Linked DNA regions of Homo sapiens. The protein of the gene in region 2 purifies or fractionates together with the protein of the main gene of each other region. This does not show direct contact. Each region holds a gene or a part of one and is shown on either strand. Other genes may lie near its edges.

Evidence for each region.
Region 1: the proteins of SPINDOC (region 2) and LOXL2 purify together in Homo sapiens (co-immunoprecipitation; one study listed by IntAct). This does not show direct contact.
Region 3: the proteins of SPINDOC (region 2) and RABEPK purify together in Homo sapiens (affinity purification with mass spectrometry; one large-scale study listed by BioGRID and IntAct). This does not show direct contact.
Region 4: the proteins of SPINDOC (region 2) and TRAF3IP2 purify together in Homo sapiens (affinity purification with mass spectrometry; one large-scale study listed by BioGRID and IntAct). This does not show direct contact.

What each region holds. Positions count from the first base shown.
Region 1 is NC_000008.11:23,367,829-23,375,821, reverse strand, and holds part of LOXL2 (lysyl oxidase homolog 2 precursor), read left to right. Parts: intron 1-7,387; 5' UTR 7,388-7,470; coding exon 7,471-7,825; intron 7,826-7,993. UniProt on the Homo sapiens protein: Mediates the post-translational oxidative deamination of lysine residues on target proteins leading to the formation of deaminated lysine (allysine).
Region 2 is NC_000011.10:63,823,022-63,829,895, reverse strand, and holds the end of SPINDOC (spindlin interactor and repressor of chromatin-binding protein), read right to left. Parts: intron 6,762-6,874; coding exon of another isoform or gene 6,740-6,761; exon of another isoform or gene 4,249-6,739; intron 2,969-4,248; coding exon 2,757-2,968; coding exon of another isoform or gene 2,723-2,756; 3' UTR 2,180-2,722; downstream 1-2,179. UniProt on the Homo sapiens protein: Chromatin protein that stabilizes SPIN1 and enhances its association with histone H3 trimethylated at both 'Lys-4' and 'Lys-9' (H3K4me3K9me3).
Region 3 is NC_000009.12:125,228,860-125,236,472, reverse strand, and holds the end of RABEPK (rab9 effector protein with kelch motifs), read right to left. Parts: intron 3,878-7,613; coding exon 3,728-3,877; intron 2,786-3,727; coding exon 2,493-2,785; 3' UTR 2,312-2,492; downstream 1-2,311. UniProt on the Homo sapiens protein: Rab9 effector required for endosome to trans-Golgi network (TGN) transport.
Region 4 is NC_000006.12:111,597,523-111,605,515, forward strand, and holds part of TRAF3IP2 (E3 ubiquitin ligase TRAF3IP2), read right to left. Parts: intron 4,774-7,993; exon of another isoform or gene 3,693-4,773; coding exon of another isoform or gene 3,674-3,692; exon of another isoform or gene 316-3,673; intron 1-315. UniProt on the Homo sapiens protein: E3 ubiquitin ligase that catalyzes 'Lys-63'-linked polyubiquitination of target protein, enhancing protein-protein interaction and cell signaling. Transfers ubiquitin from E2 ubiquitin-conjugating enzyme UBE2V1-UBE2N to substrate protein.

The DNA.
Region 1 (7,993 bases), on a different chromosome or scaffold from region 2:
CTGATAAGCAACTTCAGCAAAGTCTCAGGATACAAAATCAGTGTGCAAATATCACAAGCATTCTTACACACCAATAACAGAGAGCCAAATCATGAGTGAACTCCCATTCACAATTGCTTCAAAGAGAATAAAATACCTAGTAATCCATCTTGCAAGGGATGTAAAGGACCTCTTCAAGGAGAACTACAAACCACTGCTCAAGGAAATAAAAGAGGATACAAACAAATGGAAGAACATTCCATGCTCATGGATAGGAAGAATCAATAACGTGAAAATGGCCATACTGCCCAAGGTAATTTATAGATTCAATGCCATCCCCATCAAGCTACCAATGACTTTCTTCACAGAATTGGAAAAAACTACTTTAAAGTTCATATGGAACCAAAAAAGAGCCTGCATTGCCAAGTCAATCCTAAGCCAAAAGAACAAAGCTGGAGGCATCAAGCTACCTGACTTCAAACTATACTACAAGGCTACAGTAACCAAAACAGCATGGTACTGGTACCAAAACAGAGATATAGACCAGTGGAACAGAACAGAGCCCTCAGAAATAATACCATACATCTACAACCATCCGATCTTTAACAAACCTGACAAAAACAAGAAATGGGGAAAGGATTCCCTATTTAATAAATGGTGCTGGGAAAACTGGCTAGCCATATGTAGAAAGCTGAAACTGGATCCCTTCGTTACACCTTATACAAAAATTAATTCAAGATGGATTAAAGACTTAAATGTTAGACCTAAAACCATAAAAACCCTAGAAGAAAACCTAGGCAGTACCATTCAGGACACAGGCATGAGCAAGGACTTCATGTCTAAAACTCCAAAAGCAATGGCAACAAAAGCCAAAATTAACAAATGGGATCTAATTAAACTAAAGAGCTTCTGCACAGCAAAAGAAACTACCATCAGAGTGAACAGGCAACCTACAAAATGGGAGAAAATTTTTGCAATCTACTCATCTGACAAAGGGCTAATATCCAGAATCTACAAAGAACTCAAATTTACAAGAAAATAAAAACAATCCCATCAAAAAGTAGGTGAAGGATATGAACAGACACTTCTCAAAAGAAGACATTTATGCAGCCAACAGACACATGAATAAATGCTCATCATTACTGGCCATCAGAGAAATGCAAATCAAAACCACAATGAGATACCATCTCACACCAGTTAGAATGGCAATCATTCAAAAGTCAGGAAACAACAGGTGCTGGAGAGGATGTGGAGAGATAGGAACACTTTTACACTGTTGGTGGGACTGTAAACTAGTTCAACCATTGTGGAAGACAGTGTGGCGATTCCTCAAGGATCTAGAACTAGAAATACCATTTGACCCAGCCATCCCATTACTGGGTATATACCCAAAGGATTATAAATCAGGCTGCTGTAAAGGCGCATGCACACATATGTTTATTGCGGCACTATTCACAATAGCAAAGACTTGGAACCAACCCAAATGTTCATCAAAGATAGACTGGATTAAGAAAATGTGGCACATATACACCATGGAATACTATGCAGCCATAAAAAAGGATGAGTTCATGTCCTTTTTAGGGACATGGATGAAGCTGGAAACCATCATTCTCAGCAAACTATTGCAAGAACAAAAAACCAAACACCACATGTTGTCACTCATAGGTGGGAATTGAACAATGAGAACACTTGGACACAGGAAGGGGAACATCACACACCGGGGCCTGTTGTGGGGTGGGGGGAGGGGGGAGGGAAAGCATTAGGAGATATACCCAATGTAAATGACGAGTAAACGGGTGCAGCACACCAACATGGCACATGTATACATATGTAACAAACCTGCATGTTGTGCACATGTACCCTAGAACTTACAGTATAAAAAAAGAAATGTTGCAAGACCACATATTTTTTTCATTTCTTTCTGGGACAGGATTAGAGGATCTGGAAGTCTCTGAAGCCCTTGGGGGATGGGGGTGGGAAAGTCAGGGGAGGGAGAGAGACAGTGCCAGGCTGGGGGTAGTAGAGCTTCGCGGTGGGGGACAGAGCCCAGGTCAGCCTGCCACCACCTTCAGATCCTGGCTTGCATTTACCGTCTGCGCAACTTTAGGCAAGTTATCAAACTTCTCTGTCCCTCAGTTTCCTCCCAAGGATAATAACAGTGCCTACCACATCAAGTGAATTAAAACACTAGAGCGTTGAGAACAGTGCCTGCACATGGGGGTGCTCTATTAATGTTAGCTGCTTGCCAAGCACTCTGTGTGACCTTTGGCAATTCATTGGCTTTCTGTCTTTAATTTCCACAAGATGGATACATTTAAAAATTAAAAAGCAACCCAAAAACTTAGCTAGGCATGGTGGCTCTTGCCTGTAGTTCCAGCTACACGGGCAGCTGAGTAGGAGGATCTCTTGGGCTCAAGAGTTCGAGGCTGCGGTGAGCTATGATCACGCCACTGCACTTCAGCCTGGGTGACACGGCAAGACCCTGCCAGGCAGTGTAGAAGAGGAAAACCTTCCTGAATTCAAAGTTAGGCCCCCCCTCCGCTGGCTCAGGTAGTTCAGACCATGAACAATCATTGATACCTTGTAGGCGAACTCCAGCTAGGCAGTCAGCTCCATGGGAAAGAAGACCTCTACTCCCAGCAGGGCCTGAGGTATAGTAGGAGCTCAATGAATTCTTGTTGAATGAATAAATCAATTTAGTACTGTGAGCTGGATGGAGATGCATGATAATAGATTTCCTCATCCAACATTCCCAAATATTTGGGGATTTTCTACTTGTTCTTTTATTAATGGTTTATAGCTGAATTCTGTTGTAGTCAAACAACATATTCTGCATAATATCATTGTATCTTAATATCTTAATATGTTTGTATCATTATATGTTCCATGTGTCCCTGGAGCATAGCTGCCTTCTGCAGTTGCTGAGTACAGTTTATAGAAACTTGTGAATTAGGTTAAGTTTGTTAATTATGTCATTCACATCTTCAACCCCAGGATTTTTCTGTGTCTTCTATCCGTTACTGACAGAGGTGTGTAAAAATCTCCCACTCTGATTATGAATTTGTCTATTTTTTCCTTTTAGTTCTATCAATATTTCTTTTATATATATTGAAGCTATGCACGTACGTTTAGAAGAGTTACATTATCCTGGTGGATTGACTTTCATTATCGTAAACTGTCCCTTTTTGTCTCTGGTAATGTTTCTTGTGTTAAGGTCAGCTTGATCGTACAAGTTTCCCTCTGGTTAATGTACGCATGGTATATCTGTTTCCATCCTTTTACATTAAGCCTCTGTGTCTCTTCTAAGAAATATAAAGCTGGATTGGGCTGGGCGTGGTGGCTCACACCTGTAATCCCAGCACTTTGGGAGGCTGAGGCGGATGGATCACTTGAGGTCAGGGGTTTGAGACCAGCCTGGCCAACATGGTGAAACCCCATCTCTACTCAAAATACAAAAATTGGCCAGGCGTGGTGGTACATGCCTGGAATCCCAGCTACTCGAGGGGCTAAGGCAGGAGAATCGCTTGAACCCAGGAGGCAGTGGTTGCAGTGAGCTGAGATCGCGCCACTGCACACTCCAGCCTGGGCAACAGAGCAAGACTCCATCTCAAAAAAAAAAAAGAAAAAGAAATGTAAAGCTGAATTGTTTTGTTATATTCGTTCTGATGATCTTTGTCTTTTAATTGGAGTATTTATTTTATCTAATGTAATTACTGATATATTGGAGTTTAAACCCACCATCTAATATTTTTTCTATTTGTAACAATTGTTTTATGTTACTTTTTATTTGTTTTATTGCTTCAATTTTGGATTAATCAAGTATTTTTTAATTCTACCATTTCTCCCCCAAACCCCCTTATTAACCTGTTAGTTGTACTTTTCTTTCAGTATATGGTTCTTACAATGATTCCTATAAAGATTACAACATGCATTTATTAGACTTGCTAAAGTCTAATAGACAATAGTACTTTTACCACTTCCCAGACAACACAAGAACCTCAAACCACTTGAGCTCCATTTAATGCCTTCCTGCCTTTCGTGCTGCGCTTGCCATGCATTTTTTTTTTTTTTTTTTTTTTTTTTTTTTTTTTGAGACAGACTCTCACTCTTTCGCCCAGGCTGGAGTGCAGTGGCGTGACCTCGGCTCACTGCAACCTCCACCTCCTGGGTTCACGCCATTCTCCTGCCTCAGCCTCCCGAGTAGCTGGGACTACAGGTGCCCGCCACCATGCCCGGCTAATTTTTTGTATTTTTAGTAGAGACGGGGTTTCACCGTGTTAGCCGGGATGGGCTTGATCTCCTGACCTTGTGATCCGCCCGCCTCAGCCTCCCAAAGTGCTGGGATTACAGGCGTGAGCCACTGCACCCAGCCAGTTGCCATGCATTTTAATCATACATGTATTTTAAACCCCACAGGACATTCTTCCTGTTTTACACACTCGATCTTCATTGAGATTTACCTACATCATTTCCTACTTCATACTCTTCATTCCTTCCTACGCCTCCTTACTGACATCTGGGATGATTTTTCCTTTTGCCTGAAGAATTCCCTGTAGTATTTCCGTCTTGTGGGTATTCTGGTGACAGACTCGCTCCTCTTTTGTTTATCTGGGATGTCCTTATTTTACCTTCGTTCTCTTCACTGGGCACAGATTCTAGGCAGACTTATTTTTTTCCGCCCTTTGAAAATGTTGCGCTGTTGAAGTCTTGTCTCCTTATTTGTGTTGAGGGGACCAGCTGTTAGTCTTTCTGCTGCTCTTTCTAAGGTAACTCAGCTCCTCTACCCTGTGTTTAAGATTTTTCTTTCTATCTTGTCTTCTCTGCAGTTGGATTTCGATGTGCCCAGATGTGGTTTTCCTTGTAAACTATACTGTGTGGGCTTGATGTCTTTTGTCATTCTGGAAAATTCTAGGCCATTATTTCTTCCATTATTTCCTCTGCACATCCTTTCTCTCCTCTTCTTTGGGATTCCATTTATGGGAATGTCAGACCTTCCTATGCCCTGGCTTCTAGAGTGCAGCTCTTCAGGAATGCATCTGAGAGCCTGGAGCTGTTTAACAGGTCCCTTTGTCCTTGGCAGGTTCTGAACTCCCGGTCTCCCCAGTCCCTGGAGGCTGCCTGCAGCTTTGCTTAGCTTCTCAGCCTGTTGATCACTGCCGTGGAATTGGCGAGTATCTTCCGGGGGAAAGCAGAGACAAAAGTGAGCCTCACCTCAATGCCCTTCCCATCTCTCTGGATTCTTGGTTCCTTCAGTCCTTGGTGCCTCGGTAGCTTTCTCGTGTCTTCGAACATATGTTTTTAATATTTTACCTTCCTTTTCTAGTTGTTCTTGGCAGGTAGCTTTATCTACTGCAAGGTAGCCTGATACATCCAGAGGCAGATGTGTTGCTGAGCAGAAATGACAAAGAGGTGGTTTCTGTCCCTTGGGCCTGAGGGTCCGGTGGCAGAGCCAGACATGACAACAATGTAAAGCACCAGCAAAATGTGATGTCAAAGGGAAGCAGAAATACATTCAATCTGATAGGAGGACCTAGGAAGGTCTCTGTGAAGAACAGGAAGGATTGCACCAGGTGCCATTTGGAGGGGAGGGGAGGGGATGGAGGCGCGTTGTTCTAGGTGTCAAAAGCTGAAGCTGGTATAGGCTGATATGATGGGATGTGTGCCATGGGCAGGGCTGGGGTGAGAGAAGGGAGACACCGTCGTGGGAACCGAAGCAGGGAAGGTAGGCACGTGCCACACATAAAGGCTTTTGTATCCAAGCTGAACCAGGACTTTTTATATGGGATGGCACATTGGGAGTGACCCATTCTGGCTTTGCTTGCAGTAACTGTGCAACTCTGGCAAAATCTCTAACCCTCTCTGGTTCTTGATTTTGTTGTAAAATAAGAATCCTAATAATACCTGCCTCTTCTACTCCCCAAGGTTCTTGTGAGGCATAGGTAAGCTTGAGGATGCAGATGTGCTTTGATGGGAATGATGAGTGGCCAGGACCCTGATTCCCTTCAGAGCCACACTACTAGGGGGTCAGGCTGTGCGTTGGTCCGTTGGTCAGGAGCTATCACAGGAACCCTCCATCACTTTCTGGCCTTGTTTGTTAGTCACAGGATGAGCATGGCTGGCTCTCCGGTGACATCAGAAAGCTTTCCAAAATCCTCAGTTCTGACTGTCCCCCAGGCTCTAACATCTCCACCCCAGCATCCTCTTCGGGGCACTGAGCACTGCTGGTCACCCAACAGACATGGAACTGCCTCACTCCAAGGCAGATCATCCCTCCATGGGCAGCTCTGGACAGCTCTGACTACAGGAAAGTTAGCCAGTCCTTCCTCAAAGGTAGTGTGCCATGACCAGAAGAATATGATTAGCCTACTCCTCTGCATAGGGTTAAAATAAAATACCTTATGCCCCCACCTAAGCTTCCACCTGCTCATCCTGGTTTGGGGCCCTGCATGTTTCTCCACAAGACACACGTGTGCTCCTTTTAAAATCGTCTCCTCTTTTCTCTGAATTACGGGAGGACCAAGATACACGAGGTCTCTTGCTACATGATTTCACTCGGGAATTCTTAGAGGTAGGCTCCACCAGATACGATGACCAGGACCTTGAGGATTTTAAAACTCATTTAGCATTGCAGCCCTCAAAGCTGACGGGAAAATTATAATTCATCTAGCAAATGTTCCTGTAGTGTTTTGGGGTGCCATTCATTTAATGGAGGGTGGGTGTGTTGAACATCCTGCCCTCACCCCTTCAGACCCGCTCCTTCTCCACCGGCCCCCATGTTCCAGGAGGCTGTCCCACACGGGCTCCCTCAATGGGCTCAGCTCCCTTGCCAGTGGCTTCGAGTTGAAGGGGGCTGGGTTTGCCTAATAGGAGGCACCAGAATGATTCAAAGACGGGAGGAAAGGGAGTCAGGTATTTATTCTCCCTCCCATGTCCCCGCCGTTGCCATGGGTTGGCTCTGAGACCCTCCAGTGAGGGCCACAGCTCCTAAGAGACAGCTCCCTCTGCCAGTCTCCAGTTCTCACCCCCGCAGGCTCCCTTCAAGCCTAGGGTGGTCACAGCCCCCTCTGAGTCGCCAGCCCTAGGGTGTGACACCGGCCTTTGTTAGTTCTGCAGAACTCTGCCGGCATGTCCGTAGTCTTAAAAAACTCTCCTTAAATTAAGTTGGAGTGTGTTCTGTTCCCTGCCAGGAACTCTACTGGAAAAAGCATTCTAGAGAGATGACAAGGCAGTAGGTAAAGGAGGTGGGACCTCCCAGCCCTGCATGGTGGAAATGTAGGAGTGGGGCTGGATTGGCGTCGAGAATGGACGAGCTTTCCATATTAAGCCAAGGGGTATGAAATCGCTGGTTCTCTATGTAGGTCTCCGTAGCCCCACGTTCCCATCCTAACGCATCTCTCCTCTCTTCCAGAAAGCTCCTGCTGCTTCTGTACCCCGCCTGTCCCTCCCAGCTGCGCAGGGCCCCTTCGTGGGATCATCAGCCCGAAGACAGGGATGGAGAGGCCTCTGTGCTCCCACCTCTGCAGCTGCCTGGCTATGCTGGCCCTCCTGTCCCCCCTGAGCCTGGCACAGTATGACAGCTGGCCCCATTACCCCGAGTACTTCCAGCAACCGGCTCCTGAGTATCACCAGCCCCAGGCCCCCGCCAACGTGGCCAAGATTCAGCTGCGCCTGGCTGGGCAGAAGAGGAAGCACAGCGAGGGCCGGGTGGAGGTGTACTATGATGGCCAGTGGGGCACCGTGTGCGATGACGACTTCTCCATCCACGCTGCCCACGTCGTCTGCCGGGAGCTGGGCTACGTGGAGGCCAAGTCCTGGACTGCCAGCTCCTCCTACGGCAAGGGAGAAGGTAAACGCTCTGTGCTTTGGATCTGAGTGCTGTCACCTGGCAAGGCCCGGAGTGGCCTTCCCTGAGGTCAGCCTGGGAGAGGAGGCTGCACGCACTGCGAAGTGTAAATTCTTGGTGATGCCCATCCAGGGACTGGCATCCTTCTGTGCCCACTCAGGCTGCACCCTG
Region 2 (6,874 bases):
ACACTTGGAAAACAAAGTCAATACAACCTGGTCCCTGCCCAGGAGCTCACAGTCTAGAAGGCCAAGCCATTAATCATAGAACAGCAAAGGGGCATTTGGCTTCACAATTTTACAACAAACTTTTACATACGTTTTCTCAAGTGTAAACACCCAGCAACACAGCCATGTTGTTTTAAAAGCACATTGGCATAAATGTAAACACAAGTCACAGGATTGAAAGGATGAGAGAAAACCATTTGCAGTATTTGTGCTTGCAGAACCAGATTTTTAGCATTATTTATTCCCTCCTATCAGGTAGGATACAAGTTTTGCCAATCTGTGGATAATGGTGTTTGAGACATGGGAGTTCCGTGGCCGGCCTGCCTGCCTGCCATCATGCAGTGGGGGAGCCACACTAGATACAAGGCATCCTGAAGCCTTGGCCACTGCCTTCTGTCCACCACACCTGTCTTTTAATGTCCCCTAGACAAAGACCCTGTATATTTCTAGGCTCCTCCTGAGCTTATCAGATGGGGAGAAGGGATCATGTCCCAGGAGCCCACCAAGTCGTGAGATCCCTCATACCTGGCTTGGCACATGGTGACACCCCATCAGGTGAGCACACAGCACACGCTGCCCAGGCCCAGACCCTGCCTGCCCGAGATGAACTTCCTGGTTAGTCTCAAAATCTGGCAGTGTTGGCCGGGCACAGTGGCTCACGCCTGTAATCCCAGCACTTTGCGAGGTCGAGGTGGGTGGATCACCTGAGGTCAGGAGTTTGAGACCAGCCTGGCCAACATGACGAAAACCCCATCTCTACCAAAAAATACAAAAATTAGCCAGGCATGGTGGTGCACGCCTGTAATCCCAGCTACTCGGGAGGCTGAGGCAGGAGAATCGCTTGAACCTGGGAAGCAGAGGTTGCAGTGAGCCAAGATCGCAGCCTGGGTGACAGAGCAAGACTCCAACTCAAAAAAAAAAAAAAAAATGTGCCAATGTCAGCGTCCTACAGGAATAGCTGCCCTCCAAGTCCCACCTGTGCCCCCACTTCTCCTATGTGCACATTTGTCAGCATGTGCAGAGGTATACAGTCCTGCTTACCACACCTGCCATGGGCTCTAAACAGGACAGTACAGCTGGGGTTTGAGAAGGGGCTGCCTGTGTGCTCCATCTCACCAAAGGGAAAACCACGCACAGATCTGGCCCCTGTTGGTTTAGTTTAGGAAGGTAAGGAATCCGGTGAAGAGACCAAAAGTGGCCTCCTCATGATCCAGGGAATAGGGGAAACCAGCAAGTGTTTGGGTTTAATTAAGCCAAGGGTTGGGGGGGATGAAGGTGGACAGCTGAGGGTGCAGGCCTGTAGGGCTGGAAAAGGCGGGGCTGAGTTTAGGACCCCTGTGCCCCTCACCATCATACGGAAAGGGAGGAGAGGCATCTTTCTACCTGCAAGCTGGTTACCGCCATTTCACTTTAGAAAGCTCAGGATAAGCCGGGCGTGGTGGCTCACGCCTGTAATCCCAGCACTTTGGGAGGCTGAGGCAGGTGGGTCGCCCGAGGTCAGGAGTTCGAGGCCAGCCTGACCATCATAGTGAAACTCTGTCTCTACTAAAAATACAAAAAATTAGCTGGGCATGGGCATGGTGGTGGGTGCCTGTAATCCCAGCTACTAGGGAGGCTGAGGCAGGAGAATCACTTGAACCCAGGAGGTGGAGGTTGCAGTGAGCCGAGATCGCGCCACTGCACTCCAGCCTGGGCAGCAAGAATGAAACTCTGTCTCAAAAAAAAAAAAAAAAAAAAAAAAAGAAGAAAAGAAAAAGCAAGCAAGCAAGCAAGCAAGCTCAGGCTAATTCCCAGCTCCCTGGTTGTGAGCACCCCTGGGCTTCTACAGTGACCTCTTTTGGGCAGAGGCCTACCAGGTGAGCCAGAAGGTACAATGTTAAAGAAAATTGTTTCTGACCCCCTTTCCAGAGCAGAGAGGAAGGGAGGGGGTGAGACGCCCACAGGTGACTGATAGCACAAGTCAGCCCTCGTTCCTGGGCTCCACAGAGGCCTGCCCTGGTGCTGTCCCACCTTCAGGAGAGGTGGCTCCCTGGCTCCCCCCAGGACCATCTTCCAACCCTCCTGCCCCTCAGGGTTGCTCTAGGTGGCCAGGTATCCTGCTAGCAAACCCTCTCCCCCAATGATGGCCCAGACGGAACTCTTAATAAAAAAAAATAATTTATTGTCAACAAAGGTGATATATACAACAGGAAAACAGATGTAAATGAGAACGGGAGTGAATGGGGTGCCCAGGCCCAGCTTCAGGCCTCTGCAGGGGTGGGACAGGAAGAGGTAATGGAGGCCTCCTGGTTTAGAAGCCTGAACAAGTGGGGAGGAGAGGTGTCCCCCGAGGTAGTGGGACTCAGTTCAAACCCCCTTATGACCACTCTTGTGTAAGGCACTGTGCCAAGGGAGAATGGTGGGGAGCAGGGGGAGGGTGGGAGGAGGTCATGGGGGACAAACAGAGGTGGGGGTCAGCGAAGGACTGGGGTAGGTGTTCTCCACAGGCCCAGTGCCCTACTGCACAACAGCCTCAGCCACCCTCGCCGACCTCAGGCCTGGCCAGGAACAGACACTTTCCAGTGCCCCGAAATAACAGTGGATGCTGCCCCAGCCCCCTCCTGCCCTGGCACCTGTTTCTACTCTCTCCACCAGGTGGGTGAGCCAGGCAGCTCTGAGTTATAAGCCACTGGGGGACGCTGCCTCATCCCTCCCTCCCTCCCCAGGAAAGCAAGAATTTACACTCCATTCCCTTTTTCCGGCTTCCCTGCCACAGTGGTGCTGGATTCTGACAGAACTGTGGGCCAGTCTGAGGTGTCACCTGCTCCCACACGCTTGGTGCCCTGGGGGTGCCTGGACCAGTCTTGCAGGAGGCTGACCGCTGGGGGCTCCTCCATCCGCACGCGGATAACCTGGAGATCCAGTGTCCCGCGGAGCCCCGGAGGGGGAGCTGGGCAGGGATGAGAGCAGAGAGCAGTCAGAGCCCCCCAGACACCCCACCACGAGGATGCCCCCTGGAAGCTCCGCAAACTGTACCCACATTTCCAGGGCTTTCATTATGTCCACAGCCCAGTGCCTGGCATGAGGGGAAGCCCAAGGATGGCAGGGAGCTCCACTCCTGGGTGATCGAGGACTGCTGCCAGCTAGAAAATGAGGCGCACAGCCTCCCTAGGGACAAGCCAGCTGAAGCCAGGCAGCCTTCCTCCTGTGTGTATTTTGGCACAGGGACGCCTGGTGCTCGTGCCTCTTCCTGTAACTCCTACCTGCAGCCAACTCCATTTTATCTCAAACTTACTGGGCATCCTAGCCTAACGGGTTCTGCCTGAGTGGGGCAGAGGTGATGGGGTGGGAACACCCAGAAGCAGTCTAAGGCATAGCTGTGCCCACCAAGGAGCTCATGAGGGACTACGTGGGGGACAGAAAAGACCCCTGGCGAACTTCCACCAGGCTCTTTATCTCCTGAGTGTCAACACCTACATCACCAAGACCAGGTGTCCACCTTACCAGTATGGAGAAGGCACTCATAATGGGCAAAGCTGGGCCTCGAGGCAGAGGAAAGAGGACTGAGGACTGCCGTGGCTGCGTGCAGCCATAAAAAACGAGCACGCAACAGGGACGTGTGCAAAGGTTACGTTACATTAGGGCTGGGCATGATGGCTCATGCCTGTAATCCCAGCACTTTGGGAGGCCAGGGTGAGCAGATCACTTGAGGTCAGGAGTTTGAGACCAGCCTGGCTAACATGGAGAACCCCTTTACTAAAATACAAAGAAATTAGGCAGGCATAGTGGTGCACCCCTCTAATCCCAGCTACTCAGGAGGCTGAGGCGGGAGAGTCGCGTGAACCTGGGAGGTGGAGGTTGCAGTGAGCCAAGATCACGCCACTGCACTCCAGCCTGGGCAATAGAGTGAGACTGTCTCAAAAAAAAAAAAAGTTACATTACATTGAAAGGCAAAAACAGAAGATGGTGATTTCAACTACTGCACTGTCTATATTGGGAAGGATTTATTTGTGTGTGTTCCTTTTCTACCCTGTTTTTAGAGACACGATTATTTAAAATGTGGCACAGAAAACAGGTACAATTTTGCTGTGCGATGTGCTGGAATTTAAAATGACTTAGTGGCTGCCACCCCATTTTTATCACCTACCAAATGCTATTCTGTGTTCCCAGAACACAGTTTGTCTCCCTGATAAACTATAGGCTCCCTGAAGGAACACTGAACCCCATTTGTTCATTAATTTGACAATAATTTATTGAGTACTATATGCCCAATGCCGTTTGGATTGCTAGGGGTACAGCGGTGAATGGAGCTCCCTAAGTGGCCTTCTGGGACTTCACATTCTATTTATCAGAGCTAATAAATAGGATAAACAAATAAAAAATGCAGTATGTTATATATGGACAGATGCAAAGTAGCAAAGTACACCAGGGAAAGGAGATAGGATAATAGGATAGCAGAAAGCTGACAGGGGACCACAGACACAGAGGGAGTGAGGAGCCAGTGAGGCAGACAGGGAGGGAACAGCATTTTGAGCAGAGGGAGGAGCAAATGTGGATGCCCTGGTGGAGCACGCTGGCTTCCCCAGGAACAGCAAGGCCAGTGCCTGTGCGGGGAGCGGGATGTGGGGGGAGAGGTCAGGAGCCTGTGGGGAGCTCACTAGTCACCATGAAGGCTCTGGCTTTTATCTGGAGTGCAACAGGAGCAGCACAGAAAGGCCATGAGTAGAGGAGTGACTGGATCTGACTTGTGTTCTCAGCAGGGACACTCTGGCTGCTACAGGAGAGCAGAGCATAGCGGGCAAAGCTCAGCAGCCAGGAGACCTGGCTTAGGTTTGTTACAGGAACCAGGCGAGAGCCGGCCCTGACTAGGGTAGCAGCAGTGGATGTGGTGACAGCAGTGTGAGCTCTGAACTTGTTTTGGAGGATCGGCTGCTGGACAGATGCTGGGCTGGAGAAAGAAGAGGATGACTGTGTGGGTGTGGTCACAGCAAACTGAAGCCTGGGGCTGCCTGTTCACTGGGAAAGGGAAGATTGTGGAGTCTAGGGGTAGGGTGCATTGGTGAGACTGGGGGTTCAGTTTCAATGTGGCGAGTTTGAGATTTTTTTTTTTTTTTGAGATGGAGTCTCGCTCTGTCGCCAGGCTGGAGTGCGGTGGCACAATGTTTGAGATCTTTTAGACACCCATGTAGAGACGCCACCTGGGCAACTGGAAAAGAGGATGGAACCAGGAAGGAGCAGCCAAGGTGGGCATTATGAGCACACACATGTCATTGAAAGCTGTGAACCTGGATGAGATCTCCCAGGGAGCGAGTACCGACACTGACCCACGGCTGCGGATACTTAAGCACGTACTCATTCACCAAACACATAAGCCGGGCCTACGCTGTGCCAGGCACTGTTCTGGTTACCGCAGATATTATAGTGCAGGACGCAAACACCCTAACCTGCAGGCCCTTACATTCTAGAAAGGGAAAGGCAGACAATGATACGACGTGTTCCAACTCTGGGAGCTGAGAGTGAGCGGCAAGAGAAACTGAGAAGGAACAGTTAGTGAGGGAAGAGGAACACCAGGCGAGCAGCTGCCTGAAAAGCCAAGGGAAGAAAGTTGTCTCCAGGAAGGAGTGAGTGATCAGCCCACCGTAACCACGAGATCATAAAGAGAAGGACCGGCCAGGTGCAGTGGCTCATGCCTGTAATCCCAGCACTTTGGGAGGCCGAGGTGGGCGGATCACCCGAGGTCAGGAGTTTGAGACTAGCCTGGCCAATAGGGTGAGACGCCATCTCTACTAATAATACAAAAAAATTAGCCAGGCGTGGTGGCGCACGCCTGTAATCCCAGCTACTCAGGAGGCTGAGGAAGGAGAATCGCTTGAACTTGGGAGGCGGAGGTTGCAGTGAGCCAAGATTGCACCACTGCACTCCAGCCTGGGCGACAAGAGCAAAACTCCATCTCCAAAAAAAAAAAAGAAAAAGAAAAACAGGCCAGGTGCAGTGGCTCACGCCTGTAATCCCAGCATTTTGGGAGGTTGAGGCGGGCAGATCACGAGGTCAGGAGATCGAGACCATCCTGGCTAACACAGTGAAACCCCGTCTCTACTAAAAATACAAAAAATTAGCCAGGTGTGGTGGTGGGCGCCTGTAGTCCCAGCTCCTTGGGAGGCTGAGGCAGAAGAATGGTGTGAACCTGGGAGGAGGCGGAGCTTGCAGTGAGCCAAGATCACGCCACTGCACTCCAGCCTGGGCGACAGAGCGAGACTCCATCTCCAAAATAAAAAAAAGAAAAACACCAGCAAGACAGAGAGGCTCCTCTTTCCATTACTTGTCAGTGGGTCATTGTGGCCCACCTCCTCTCCTGGCCTGCACACTCTCCCCATCCTCCTCTGGCAAGGTCCTCAGAAGGTTCTAGAGTCTTCCTGGACTACCTCACATTCACATTCATCAGCTCAGCTAACCTGACCACAGGTGGCCTTTTCCAACTGTTAAATCCACGATTTTTACACCTCTAATTTTTTTTAAAGTGGCAGGATCTTTATTTAAATAAAGTCTTCAGAGAACTTCAATACGTACATAACAACACAGAAAGTAGAGACATTTTGGTCGAAGCCTCACAGGTTTCTGAGAAATCTGTCCAAGCTTTGGGTTCGTGAGATCGTCTGAAACCACAGGTCCAGAGCCTCTGCTCCGCAAAGAACCGCCACGGGGGCCCCTGGTTTTTAAAGATTTACTGCCTCCAGCCTATATACCTGGACACAGAATTTTGGGGGACAAAGGCTGTCTCACTCATGCCATCTCCCAGGGTGCCTCCCTCGGGCACAGGCTCCAGGAACACTTGTGTACCAGTGAGGTATCCTCTATG
Region 3 (7,613 bases), on a different chromosome or scaffold from region 2:
AAACTGCTATAGCCTAAGCGGCTGTTTACTGCTTTTCATTAGCAGTTGCTCACATGTCTTTGGGTGGGGGGGAGAAGAAGAATTGGCCATCTTAAAAAGCGGGTAAAAAACCTGGGTTAGGGTGTGTGTTCACCTTCAAAATGTTCTATTTAACAACTGGGTCATGTGCATCTGGTGTAGGAAGTTTTTTCTACCATAAGTGACACCAATAAATGTTTGTTATTTACACTGGTCTAATGTTTGTGAGAAGCTTCTAATTAGATCAATTACTTATTTTAGGAAATTTAAGACTAGATACTCGTGTGTGGGGTGAGGGGAGGGAGTATTTGGTATGTTGGGATAAGGAAACACTTCTATTTAATGCTTCCAGGGATTTTTTTTTTTTTTTTTAACCCTCCTGGGCCCAAGTGATCCTTCCACCTCAGTCTCCCAGCTAATTGAGACCACAGGCTTGTTACCACCATGCTCGGCTTTTGCATTAATCTAAGAAAAGGGGAGAGAAGTTAATCCACATCTTTACTCAGGCAAGGGGCATTTCACAGTGCCCAAGAGTGGGGTTTTCTTGAACATACTTGGTTTCCTATTTCCCCTTATCTTTCTAAAACTGCCTTTCTGGTGGCTTTTTTTAAAATTATTACTAATGATGCTTTTATAGCTGCTTGGATTCTCTGAGAAATGATGGGGAGTGAGTGATCACTGGTATTAACTTTATACACTTGGATTTCATTTGTAACTTTAGGATGTAAAGGTATATTGTGAACCCTAGCTGTGTCAGAATCTCCATCCCTGAAATTTCTCATTAGTGGTACTGGGGTGGGATCTTGGATGGTGACATTGAAACTACACTAAATCCCCTCACTATGAATGGGTTGTTAAAGGCAATGGTTTGTGTCAAAACTGGTTTAGGATTACTTAGATTGTGTTCCTGAAGAAAAGAGTCCAGGTAAATGGTATGATCAATAAAGGACAGGCTGGTGCTAACATAAAATCCAATATTGTAATCCTAGCACTTTGGGAGGCCAAGGCGGGTGGATCACAAGGTCAAGAGATAGAGACCATCTTTGCCAACATGGTGAAACTCCATCTCTACTGAAAATACAAAAATTAGCTGGGCGTGGTAGTGCAAGCTGAAGGCTGAGGCAGGAGAATCACTCGAACCCGGGAGGCAGAGGTTGCAGTGAGCCGAGATCACACCACTGTACTCCAGCCCGGCACTCCAGCCTGGCGACAAGAGTGAGACTCCACCTCAAAAAAAAAAAAAAGAATCCAATACTGCCCAAGGATAGGTATTTTATAGATGGGCAACTGGCTGAAAGGTTAATTCTCTAGGGCTAGTAGAACTGGATCCCAACACCAAACTCTTAATTAGACCTAGGCCTCAGCTGCACTGCCCGAAAAGCATTTGGGCAGACCCTGAGCAGAATACTGGTCTCAGGCCAAGCCCAATACAGCCATTAAAGATGACCTACAGTGCTGTGTACCCTGGGGCAATAGGGTTAAATGGTAGTTAGCAACTAGGGCTAGTCTTCCCTTACCTCAAAGGCTCTCACTACCGTGGACCACCTAGTCTGTAACTCTTTCTGAGGAGCTGTTACTGAATATTAAAAAGATAGACTTCAACTATGTGTCTGATGTCTATAGTTTGTTGTTTACCAATTATAATTCTGCAACTTCTTTTTTAACCCTAACCATATTGCAACTTTGTGATTAGCATTTAATACACAAATCACACCTACCTAGGTTTGTATTGTTGGCAAAACCTTTTATATATATATATATGTATACATATATATGTGTTTATGTATACATATATAAATACATGTATATATAAATATGTATACATATATATGTATACATATAAATATACTATATATGTATACATATATATGTGTGTATATATGTATATATATATATATTTTTTTTTTTTTTGAGACAGAGTTTCGTTCTTGTCACCCAGGCTGGAGTGCAATGGTGTGATCTCAGCTCACCGCAACCTCCGCCTCCCGGGTTCAAGCGATTCTCCTGTCTCAGCCTCCTGAGTATCTGGGATTACAGGCATGGGCCAGCACACCCGGCTAATTTTGTGTTTTTAGTAGAGACGGAGTTTCTTCATGGTAGTAAGGCTGGTTTTGAACTCCCGACCTCAGGTGATCCACCTCCTCAGCCTCCCAAAGTGTTGGGATTACAGGCGTGAGCCACCAAGCCTGGCCCAAAGCCTTTTATGTTAATGCAGTGGAGGTTTTTGCATTGGGCAAAACTTATCTATCTACCACAGTTTGCAAACCAGTCACTGAAAGTCATTCCCAAGAGCTCTGAGAGGCAATATAGCAAGGTTTAGTGCACATAAGAATTATTTGCATTAGTTTCTTCACCTACCAAAGTAGGAGAAAAACAGATATATAATGCAGAAGATATTTTGGAGGTATAAAACAGCTAATGTTTTACTTAACTATTCTGAAAGTAACTGACAGGTAATAAAAATGTGGGTTTTATTAGTCCACTACAGTCACAATACAATCGTCATAGATTTCCCCTTCTGTATTCATCCCACCAAACACCAAACAGAGCAGTGTAGCAGTCTGGCTTTCCTCATGTGAGTCACCACTGTGGCTCATTACTTTGTCAGCTGAATCCTCTTTCTCAGCTTCATGGTTCAGAGTGAGAGAGTTGGAATCTTCTTTCTCAGAAGCACACGTCACTGGCCATGGAATGATACACATGGAATGGTCCAATCGTCCAGGGGGTAGAAGAGTATCAAATTTAAGCAAGGTCCAATGCTGCTCTTCTATGTTGGGGAGGGAAAAGGCTTCATGTTAAGAAATTTCCAGATAGGCCGGGCACGGTGGCTCACGCCTGTAATCCCAGCACTTTGGGAGGCCGAAGCGGGTGGATCACGAGGTCAGGAGATGGAGACCATCCTGGCTAACACGGTGAAACCCCGTCTCTACCAAAAATACAAAAAAAAAATTAGCTGGGCATGGTGGCGGGCACCTGTAGTCCCAGCTACTCGGGAGGCTGAGGCAGGAGAATGGCGTGAACCCAGGAGGTGGAACTTGCAGTGAGCCAAGATCACGTCACCGCACTACAGCCTGGGCGACAGAGTGAGACTCCATCTCAGACAAAAAAAAAAAAAAAAAAAAAAACAATTTCCAGATAGTGAAAGCCAAAATCTGAATAAAATTTAAAAAGTAATGAAATTTCTAGAAATGCTCAGTGATTTACTGTAGCAGCCGAGTCCTAACAAACAGGAGTAAAAGGAAAAAAACCTTATGGCAGCATTGCTGCTTTCCTGATGTCATCCCCTACAGAGTTTTCATTCTTTTGGATTTAGATATAGAGGAACCAAATTGGAAGCACTGCATCACTTTTTTCTTTCTTTCTTTTTTTTTTTTTTTTGAGACAGAGTCTCGCTCTGTCACCAGGCTGGAGTGCAGTGGTGTGATCTCAGCTCACTGCAACCTCTCTGCCTCCTGGGTTCAAGCAATTCCCCTGCCTCAGCCTCCCGAGTAGCTGGGACTACAGGCGCCCGCCACCACGCCTGGCTAATTTTTTGTATTTTAGTAGAGATGGGGTTTCACCATGTTGGTCAGGATGGTCTCGATCTCCTGACCTCGTGATCTGCCTGCCTCGGCCTCCCAAAGTGCTGGGATTACAGGCGTGAGCCACCGCATCACGTTTCAAAGAATGTTTAGATTTGTTTAAAGATCCCCCATGGACACCTGCTCACCTGTGTGATACTGGTACATTGTGTCCAGTGCTCCTGCAGGAGTCATTCCACCAAAGATGTACACATGTTTTCCCATGGCCACAGCTGAGTGGGCAGCACAGCCTGCTGGAGCAGCCCCAGTGGGATTTAGCTTCTGCCATTTCATGTCACCTGCCAAGAGAAAGAAAGAGCTTTGGCGCAGCATGGGCTAAGATGTGCTTTCAAACTTATCTATCTACTGTAGTTTGCACACCAATCACTGAAAGTCATTCACCAAGAGCTCTGAGAGGTTTAGTGCACATAAGAATTATTTGGGGAACTCTGACATTATGATTGGGTAGTCCAGGGAGGAAGGCAGGGAGGGGCTCAGTGATTCCCAGAATCTCAGGCGATTCTGATGTAGGCAGTCTTTGGATCACACAGAAATGTGATACAACCTTTATAATAACAGTCACCTTCAACCATTCACTATTAACTGCCTCGAATTAGCTCAGTTTCTCTCTCTCTCTCTCTCTGTCTCTGTGTGTGTGTGTGTGTGTGTGTGTGTGTACTTTAAATACAGTTCCTGGGCCGGGCACGGTGGCTCACGCCTGTAATCCCAGCACTTTGGGAGGCCGAGGCGGGCGGATCACCTGAGGTCGGGAGTTCGAGACCAGCCTGACCAACATGGAGAAACCCCGTCTCTACTAAAAATACAAAATTAGCCAGGCATGGTGGTGCATGCCTGTAATCCCAGCTACTCAGGAGGCTGAGGCATGAGAATCGCTTGAACCTGGGAGGCGGAGGTTGCGCTGAGCTGAGATCACACCATTGCACTCCAGCCTGGGCAACAAGAGCGAAGCTCCGTCTCAAAAAAAAAAAAAAAAAAAAAATACAGTTCCTTAGCGATTTTGTAAGTGCTGGCTAAACAACAAATTTTGCTCACTTAATTTTCATAACAGCCCTATGAAATTTCTATTACTTCTGCCTATCCCCTTTCTTATTCTTTTTTTTTCCGCTCTGTTGCCCAGCCTGGAGTGCAGTGGCTTGATCTTGACTCCCAGGTTCAAGCAATTCTCTGCCTCAGCCTCCCGAGTAGCTGGGATTACAGGCACCTGCCACCGGGTCTGGCTAATTTTTTGTATTTTTAGTAGAGACGGTGTTTCACCATCTTGGCCAGGCTGGTCTTGAACTCCTGACCTCGTGATCCACCCACCTCGGCCTCCCAGAGTGCTGGGATTACAGGCGGGAGCCATGGCCTGGTGCCTGGCCTCCCCTTTCTTCTTACAAATGAGCAAACAAGAATAGAGAAGGAAAGAGACTTGTCCGAGACCCTATAGCTTGTAAGTGGCACAGCAAGACTGCACTTAGGTGTGGCTCCAAAGCCTGTGTCTCCAAAATCTCTACACGATAATGTGCTGCCTTAGCGCCTACTTCCCACCTATTTTTGCAGGGAAACTTGCATCTTTTCAAACAAGCATTTTTTTTTCTTTTGAGACAGAGTCTCACTCTGTTACCCAGGCTGGAGTGCAGTGGCGCGATCTCAGCTCACTGCAACCTCCACCTCCCGGATTCAAGCGATGCTCCTGCCTCAGCCTCCAGAGTAGCTGGCACGTGCCGCCACACCCGGCTAATTTTTGCATTTTTAGTAGAGACAGGGTTTCACCATGTTGGCCAGGCTAGTCTCAAACTCCTGACCTCAGGTGATCCGTCCACCTCGGCCTCCCAAAGTGCTGGGATTACAGGGGTGAGCCACTGCTCCCAGCCAAAACAAGCATTTAAATAAGGCAAGCTATCACTGGATTTTAGATTTAGAGAACTACTTGGGTAGGCAGGAAAAATAGTCAACAAGTAGTTCCTAACACCAGAAAAAGGCTCTTTTTAAAAATAAGCATTAAGACCCCATCTGACTGCCCGCAAGGAATGGTTTTGTGTAAATAGTTTCCATCTGTCGGCCGGGCGCAGTGGCTCACACCTGTAATCCCAGCACTTTGGGAGGCCGAGGTGGGCGGATCACAAGGTCAGGAGATTGAGACCATCCTGGCTAACACGGTGAAACCCTGTCTCTACTAAAAATACAAAAAATTAGCCGGGCGTGGTGGTGGACACCTGTAGTCCCAACTACTCAGGAGGCTGAGGCAGGAGAATGGCATGAACCCGGGAGGCAGAGCTTGCAGTGAGCCAAGATTGCACCACTGCACTCCAGCCTGGGCAACAGAGCGAGACTCCATCTCAAAAAAAAAAAAAAATAGTTTCCATCTGTCAATGCAAGGCAGGGGCCCAGCATCTCAGAGTAAGAAGGGAGAATCACCCGGTGTGGCCAAAATTCTAGCCAATGCAAGAATACAAAGCCAGTGTCCCCTGGCCTCAGCTGTCATGGAGCCAGATAATTCAGGGCTTGGGAAGTCAGCCCGATACACTACACAGGACTTCCCATGCCTTCTGCCCATTGTTCCAGTTCTTGTAGTCTGGAGCAATGCAGAACATGTTCATTTCTTCATCCCTCCACTCAATAACAGGTATGAGCCGGGAGCAGTGGTTCACGCCTATAATCCCAGCACTTTGAGAGGCCAAGGCGGGTGGATCCCTTGAGTCCTGGAGTTGGAGACCAGCCTGGGCAACATGGTGAAACCTCATCTCTACAGAAAATAAAAAAATTATCTGGGTGTTGTAGCACGTGCCTGTTGTCCCAGCTACCCGGGAGGCTGAGGCAGGAGAATCACTTGACCTGAGAGGCAGAGGCTGCCATGAGCTAAGATCGCATCAGTGCATTCCAGCCTGGGCAACCAAGTGAGACACTATCTCAAAAAAAAGAAAGTACCTGTCACCCACTATCTGCCAGACACTGTGCTAAGTGCTAGAAATGTACTGGAGAACAAAATAGACAAGTTCCCTACCATAATGGACCTCACAGCTTGAAGGAATTGCCCAGAATGAGTCCAGGGTCTCTCCACAGCATATCAGCCCTTCAGATACTTAAAGGATATTTCTCATGTTCTCTCTAACCTTCCTCTTCCCACTGTTTTCAACCATTTAACATGAAAAGCATGAAACTCTAGTCATCTACATCCACATTATCCAGATCCTTCATGGGTTAATGGCTAACACCAGAAAGAAATCCAGTAGGCCAACACAAAGCATAATGGGTTGTAATGAAAGGAGAGCACTGTTGGAAGGTTAAGAGACAATAAATGGCTGGGTCCATAGTAAGCACTCAGGAGATTATTTAGTGCTATGATTTTTTATTATTAGTATTCTGTCCAGAGGTAACAGAATCTGATGAAGATTCTGCCAGCTGGTCAAGTTACCTACACATAAGAGCAAGGCTATATTTTCTTTTTCTTTTTTCTTTTCTTTGAGACGGAGTCTCACTCTGTCGTCTAGGCTGGAGTGCAGGGGTGCAATCAGCTCACGGCAACCTCCACCTCCCAGGTTCCAGCGATTCTCCTGCCTCAGCCTCCCACGTAGCCAGGACTACAGGTGCCTGTCACCAAGCCTGGCTGATTTTTTTTTTCTTTTTTTCTTTTTTTTTTGGAGACGGAGTCTTGCTGTGTCGCCCAGGATGAAGTGCAGTGGCATGATCTTGGATCACTGCAACCTCTGCCTCCTGGGCTCAAGCAATTCTCCTGCCTCAGCCTCCCGAGTAGCTGGGATTACAGGCATGCACCACCACGCCTGGCTAATTTTTATATTTTTAGTAGAGATGGGGTTTCACCATGTTGGCCAGGCTGGTCTCGAACTCCTGACCTCAGATGATCCACCTGCCTTGGCCTCCCAAAGTGCTGGGATTACAGGCATGAGCCACTGTGCCCAGCTCTTTTTTCTGAGATGGAGTCTCACTCTGTCACCCAGGCTGGAGTGCAATGGTGTGGTCTCGGCTCACTGCAACCTCTGCCTCCCGGGTTCAAGCAATTCTCCTGCCTCAGCC
Region 4 (7,993 bases), on a different chromosome or scaffold from region 2:
AGGGGGCCACAGACAGATTAATGGGTTATGTCAAGGATGGCAGTTTTATCTGTTTTGTCTTTAATGTCCATAGTGTAAAAATACTAAACATTAAAAAGCAATCACTCAGTATCTCACCATTGTATTTTTAAAATACAAAGAAAACCATTCAGCAGAGGGTGAGAGCATGTACCCTGGGTAAGCACGAGTGGGCATGAACTGGGGACAGAGGTGAGTCCTGGGGACATATAACTGGATGGAACAGCTGTGCATGTGAGCCTGGTTCTTGCTTGTTCTGACCCGACCCATTTTTCTGTTTTTCCTTTTTTTTTCCAGGCTTTCTCCATATTTACGTGCTTGTAACTCTGGCATGACCTTTGCTCCAGTCTCTACCAGAGGGCGGTGCCTGGATTGAAGTGGAAAAGCCCTGTTTTCCAGCCATGACCCAGGGAGCAAGCACTGACTCCTCAGGGGAACAGGAGACCTGCCAACTAGGACCCTGGGAGCCCCCATGCTGGCAGTGCCCTGGGTCATCTCAGGCTCATCAGCAAATCCTGGGGGGAGAGCGGGGCTGGAGGGCGAAGAAGCCCAGGAGAGTTCCTGGCTCAGAACCCCTCTCTGAGGCTCCCAATACAGAGCCCAGGCCCCACACCCAGGGCCTCTGAGTATTTTTGTTTATTGTATGTAAAATACTAGTGTATTTTTGTTTAAGTCTCACAGGTAAACAGGTTCTCTCATACTTTGCCAAGGGAAATGTGATCTGTGCAATTTGGCAATAACTATCAGAATTTTAAAAGCTTATGCCCTTTGACCTAGTAATTTCACTTCTAAGAATTTCCCCTGCAGAGATATGTATATCTTGTATGAAATGAAGAGGCTACGAAGACAGGCAACGCCGCAGTGTTTATAATAGCGAAGACCAGACACAACCCACATGTCTAAAGGTTCTGATTTTTAAAACTGTAGTATATCTGTACAATGAGCACTCCACATCCTTTAAGAATGAGGAAGGGCTGTGTGAACTGAAATGGAACTATCTCTAAGATTTATTAAGTTAAAAAAATTCAAGAGTAGCACAGTGTGTAGGGTATGCCATCATTTGTATGATATAAGGTCGTATATCTGCCATCTCAAATGAGGAACAGTGGTTGCCTCTGGGAAGGGAATTGGATGGCTAGGAATGGGGTAGGAAAGAGGTTTGCTTTTCAGAACATTTTATACTATTTAAGTTTTGTAACAAGTGCATCTATTTTGACTTAAAAGATAAAAAATGAAAAGGAAAGGCTCCACTAGTGATTCTGATGCTCACAAAGATTAAGAACCAATGCGAATGAGGAACTCATGACACCGCCCAGGAGACAGTGAACATATCTCTTCAAATATCAAAAACCTTTCAGCAGAGGGTGAGAACATGTGCCTGGGGTAAGCATGGGTGGGCATGAGCTGGGTACAGAGGTGATTCCCAGGGACATACAACTACCTTGCCCTCCTGGGATCAGGTCTTCCTCCCACCTTAGCCTCCCATATTGTTGGGACCACAGGCATGCACCACCACACCTGGTTAATTTTTTTTTTTTTTTTTTTTTTGTAGCGACAGAGTCTCGCCATGTTGCCTAGGCTGGTCTCGAACTCCTGGGCTCAGGCAATCCTTCTGCCTCGTCCTTCCAAAGTGCTGAGATTACAGGCATGAGCCACTGCACCCAGCCTGACAGTAGCTTTTAATCTCTGGACTCTCATCACCGTTTGGACTGTGAGCTGTGGTTCTAGCTCTTGGATCTGATGGGCATCTTCCCTCAAATATGTCAGTTTCTCTCTCCAGGTCCCTTGCTTTGTCTTCCTTTTTGCCTCCTCGGGCCTGATACCTTTCTCTGGGCTTCTCTACTCTGCCCCGAGCTGCCTAGTTTTGCGAATAATGTCACATCCAGATGTCAGCAGCCCTGATGTCCATGTGACAATGCTCCCTTGCTGTCCATGTGACAATGCTCCCTTGGTGTCCCAGTGACAGATTTTCCCATGCTTCACCCTCTCTCTTTTTTAATTTTTTTTTCTGTACACAGCTCTCAGTCAAGCCCCTTGAGCTGCCTCCAACTGTTTGCTCATGTCTGTTCCCAGCAATCTTTTCCTCTTTTAGCACAATCTTCCTTAACTTACTAGTTTTTTGAAACAGAGCCTATTAGTCTTCACAGCGCTACCTTTCTGATCTCAGAGTTCACCAAAAAGCTTTTCCTCCCATCATGCCTGCCTCCCTTTCTTCAGGTCCGTTAGAGTCCACCGTGGCCTGTGTGGGAAGCAAGTCTCTCCCAGGGCACACATGAACAGACTTCATGCCCACATCCACAGTGAACAGTGGCTTCTGCCTTCCAGATGGGCTTACCCTAAATCAACACATATTCCTAGGATGTGGGAACATATGCAATACTTAAATGCACAGGCTCTGGGTTCAGACTCCCTAGGGTTAAATTCTCCCTGTGCCGGCTAGCTGCATGATTAGATTTGTGATCTTGACAAAGTTACCTAACGTCTCTGGGCCTCACTTTTCTCATCTGCAAAATAGGGAAAATAGCAACACTTCTCCATAGGGGTGTGGTGAGGATAAAGAGTAGATGTAAATAAAGTGTTGAATGTAGAGCCTGGCACATATCAAGCTCTTAAAAAGCAATGGCCATTTTGTTATTTTTACCGCAACGACAACTGCAGTTATTATCTGGCTTCAGAGCTCTCTTTTTAAAAACAGTATTCCCTGGTTTTACACCCAGGTGCTAATACTATTCTATGAAGCTAATGTATAGAGACCATATCTTTTTAACAAACGTGTATATATGAGTCATTTCCGGCACATTTGATACACATCATCTCGTTTGGTCCTTAAAACAAGCCTAGGCCATAAGCAGGGTACGTGTTACCACTTTGCCATTCCTGTTTTACAGAGGCTTAGACACATTGAGAAGCTTTTCCATAGTCACTTAACAAGTGATGGGTGAAGCCAAATCAAGCCTTTAGATCTCCAAGCTCTTTCCATTAAACCATATAAATCACGGGTTGGCAAACTTTTTCTGCAAAGGGGACAGATAGTAAATAGTTTAAGCCTTATGGGCCACATGCTGTGTCTGTTTCATATTCTGCTCCTTTTTTATTTTTATTTTTTTTAAGAAAAGACACCCTTTAAACATATAAAAACCATTCTGAGCAACAGGCTGGTGCTAAAAACAGGTCATGGTAACCATTGGCTCTAGGGTTGTAGTTTACTGTTGATATAGATTGTACACTGATAAGCCAAAATACAAACCTAATGAAACTGACATACTTAAGGAACTTTACTCTTTGTTAGCAATCATTGTTAATATTTATTGAATGGTGACTACGTGGGAAATGCTGTTCCAAGTGTGATAGATATATTAACTTACTTAATCCTCACACCCACTCTAATTTCCTAAGTACTATTGTCAGACTCATTTTACAGACAGGAAAAGCAAGGCATAGAGAAGGTAAGTAACTTTTCCGAGGTCACATGGCTATTAAGTAGCAGAGCTGTGATTCAAATATAAGCGGTTTGGCACCAGATCCTGTGCACTTAACCGCTTGCATCTCGGTTGGGAGCACTGACTGGTTCAGCTATTGGGAGGGAAGAAAGGGGATGGGGAAGCCACATAACCCCTAGGAGATTCTGTAATAAATATGCTTCAGAGCCATTCACCTTGAAGCTGAGGAGGCATGGAAGCAGGCCACCTGTGTTCTGTACAGCATCACCAGGCTGGAAATCTGCCATGGCTTTCCTTCACGCCATCACAAGAGGATACAGATGAGGCTGCAGAGGCATCTTGATTTGAGAAAAGCATTTGACTGGATCTCATTAAATTTTAATCATTAACTGAATTCAAAATAAATTGAAAACTGGTTGACAGAGCACCAACAAAGGGTGATGATAAATGGTGATGCATCTAGAGGGGAGCTATCTTCCAGGGGACAACTCTAAGGCAAGGACGGATGGGATTTAATGAAGGTGTTATGTCCCCAGAAGAAGACAAATAGCACAGCAAGGAACAGAGGAAGGACAGGAGTGAGCAGCCTGAGTAATTAATAAACCATATTAACAGCTCCTCCATAATCAGGCCTTGGTGATCACAACTGCTTGGATTTTTTCTTAAGCTTTCTTTGAGTCAGGAATAGGTTTGAAGCGTCCTAGAGACACACAGCATGAATATTTCAGGTGGACATTAAAAAGAAATCTATAAATTTACAGCTGGGAGGATCCTGAGATCTACTTCGGATCAGAAACTTTCAATTACAAGATTCCCAAGGCCTTACTTCATTCCCCAGAGAGTAATCTTTTTAATAAATGTCCAAAAGTCATGGATTTAAAAAAAAATCTTTAAACTCATTAATGTCCTTTGTTTCCTGCCCAAATGCATGCAAACTTTCATAACACTGGTTTGCTGAGTGGAAGGTTGGTTTTGAGTGAACTGTTTGGCTCAGATTCAAACTCCAATGAACAAATACTTCCAAGTTTACTTGCTGAATTTCCCATACAGAGAAGTTCTTCCACTGGGCTTGCCAGAGGATTTGAAACAGTGGTGAGCCCTGGAAGGAAGGGAATATTTACTGGCCCTTGGACATAAACCCAGCACAGTAAGACTCACATCAGGCTGAAGGCAGTGCAGTATGAACCGACCTGATTTGAGGAAGTTTGCTCTGGGACTCCTCTGAGCTACTAAATGAGGAGGAGAAGGACTAATGGGAACACACTGACTCCATCACATTAGAAGTTATAATAAACATTTAGAGAACAACCTCAAACCAGCCCATGTTTTTTTTTTTTTTCTGTCGTTGTCATTGTTTTGGTTTTTGTTTTTTTGTTTCTTCAGATAAGATGGTTTCTCTAAGCACATGTGTGATCCCTAATTCAGCCACAGCCACGGAGTGAAGGAGAGGAAGGGGTAGAAAGGAAAAACCAAGAGAGGAAGAGGAAGGGAGAGAAAGGAAGGAAGGAGAACGGAAGAGAAGTAAGGAAAGTGGGGAAACGCTGAAGGATTTTTTTGTATTTGCCTTTTATTGGTGTAGGAGAGACACTTATTTACTTGTAATTTGTATGTAGTGCTGGGTATGAGAAGGGGCAGTTGGAAGAGAAGGGAAAGAATGAATATAGGTGAAAGGTAAGAGTGTCATAGGGTAAGCTGGGAGGCCAGGAAGAGTTTGGACAGACAGCTCAGAGTAGGAAGAGAGTTCAGAGCGGGGAGGGAGACCTGTTGACTCTGGGAAGGGGAAAGGGAAAAAACACTGGCATCCTGACTGCAGGGAAACAATGAGGCAGCGGAGAGCAAGTATCCCTCATTGCTGAGGGAGCTGCCAAGACCCCAGGCAGCCTCAGTCTGTGGGGTGCGGCCTGTGGGGTGCGAGGAGAGGGGCACAGGCTGGGAGCTCCGGTCAGTCCTGGCCCTCCTAAAGGGCTTGAGTTCAGCTGCCTTATCAGGGAACCAAGCCAAACCAGCACAGACCTAAGGATCACCCCATGGATGGAAGCCCACCCTTCTTCAGCCAGTCTACAACTCCTGGTATCCGGGAAGGTCTGTGCACACACAAGGTGTGCACACACACACACACACACACACACACAAGGCGTGCACACACAGCTACAGAGTGAGCTGAGTAGTCACAGCCAAGCACATGTGTGCTTCTAGGAGGCCTGCTGGGCACGGGAGGCAAAGACCATAAGTGGGAGAAAGGACAGCCTGAGTTTCATGAACTAAAAATATCTTGGTGACAACGCATTGGGAAGAAACAGGAGAGGCCCGGGGGGCAGCTTCTTGATTCCAGTCCTCAGACACTTTCTCATGGAAAAATCCTTCAGACTGCAGGATTGTTTTGATAAGGAAATGTGATCAAACATTAGGGGTCATTTCATTGGATCTGAAAGGAATTTAAAGTTGAATATGCCTCATCTGTGTTCACTCTTTTTTTTCTGCAGCAGTTGCCTGCAATTCATATATGTTTTTAGAAGCTAATTTAAAATTGCCTGCAGAAGAAAAATGATTTGAATTCAGGATATTCCTGAGATTTCCATTCTACAACGTGTAAAACAAAGATTTCATTTAGACAAACTACCCCACCATAATCTTTCTGAATGCCTGTTGAAGAATGCCTGCAGATATGACTGTCTTCTCCTCTTCTTTTTCTTTTCAGAGCATTTGAAAGTCACTAACTCCTTAATCCCAGGAGAAGCAGGCTTTAACATTTCCTGTCTCTACACCTTCCAAAAATGAGTAACCCTGAGTTAAGAACCTTTCTATCCGACATGTTGGTACATTACTCAGACCTCACTTCTGTTTAACCCACCCCATGCAAGGAACAGAGCAGAGTAACTACATTATCCATCTTTTGATGCTCCATCATGGAGTGACTGGTAGCTGCAGCAGCAGATTAAGAATGACTGTGGTGTGTGGCCTTTAAGGATTAGAGCGAGGCTGGCAAGTGCACAACAGTTAGCCTGCTTTCAGATAATGGTGCATCGTTGTTTGAAAATAAAATCAGGAACTCATTGCAGGTGAAATATCTTGAAATTCCTGTCCTTTCATCCCAGGGGAATAGAGAGAAATGCCTAAAAACATGACACGGACTACACCAGGACATCCCACAGAAACCAAAAGTCCTGCACCAGCCCATCCCAGTCAGCTAGGGCCTGTTTGAACTGTATTGATGGCAAGTAATTGCCAAAAAGAAACAATGACAATTTTTTTTTAAGTCACGGTCTGGAAAAAGTTAAGGATTCTGTGTATCCGCCATCTAATAATGTCTCTAATCACAGTCATCACCCTTACATGGTATTAGGATGTGTTTCATAGTTTCCCTTCCCCTCCCATTAAAGGCCCCACACACAGTGACTGGTCCAGCTGAGGAGTGGTTTCCAGGTCCAGCTACAGCAGTAACTCTGGCTTCTGGAGCTGGGCTTGTCTGCCAGTTCTCTGGCCTGCCTTGACTCTGTGGACAATAGCACAGACTATCCTTCCTGGGTAACCCAAATGGGACATGAACTAATTCGAGAAACTCCCTGTTTTCTCCTATTTGGCTAGAGCCAGTAATAAGGCCTCAATTCCAGGCAGCCCTCCCGCAGAGACACGTGTCTCCCAGCCTTTCGCCCTGACTGCTGCTTTACCTCTTGCCTTGAGAGCAGACGAGTGAAACAGAAATCAAAGCAGTTGACATGGAAGGGGGGTGAGCACCTACTAGGCATTTGGTAGCATGCTGGATTCTGGGAGGTAGAAAAATATCAGGAAACAAAGTCCTTTCCTCAAGGGGGTAACCAACTGGTAGTGGGAGGTAAAATTAAAATATGTGAATAATCGGTAAACAAAACAAGTCTTGAAGACCACCCATTACCACTACCCCTCTGGGACTATCCTGGCTTTGTTTTATAAGGGAATTTGACACACTCATGTTAGATCACCACCCCCCATCAATTTACTGATGAAGAAATCCAGGCTTAGTGGAGTCAGAGTGAATTGCCTAAGTCATGGAACCACAAGAAGTGAAGAACTTGAAACCAAGTTTCTTGTCCTTTTAAAAAATTTGGCCTCTTGTTCTCCTGTTCCTTTAAAAAAAAAAAAATCCCCCTATTCTAAGATACCATCTTGAACTTGAAAGTCACAAGAAGCTTGATTAGCTTCTAAGATCAAGTTCTGGCATTTCTCCCCCTTGTTCCCAAAGGCTCCGTCCAGCGCCAGGCTGGGAGGGCTGGAGGGCGGCTGCGGAGAGGGGCCGGGAGGCGGCTCACAGCCAGCACAGAGCTCAGCAGAACTTCCTGGCCCAAAAATGTGCTGTTGATTTTTTTCCCCCCTGCACGAAACAAGGATTGAGAAAACTGCCACTGACGTGTTCTGGGGCTGAAAGCCAATTACTTAATCTTTGCCATCCCTGGCTCTCTCTTTGGAGAAGTGGGGCTTGAATTCTTGAGAGAAACTTGTGGGGACACTAAGTACCCAAACGAATGGTTCCCAGGCAGCTCCGAGCTGTCCCCGTGTGC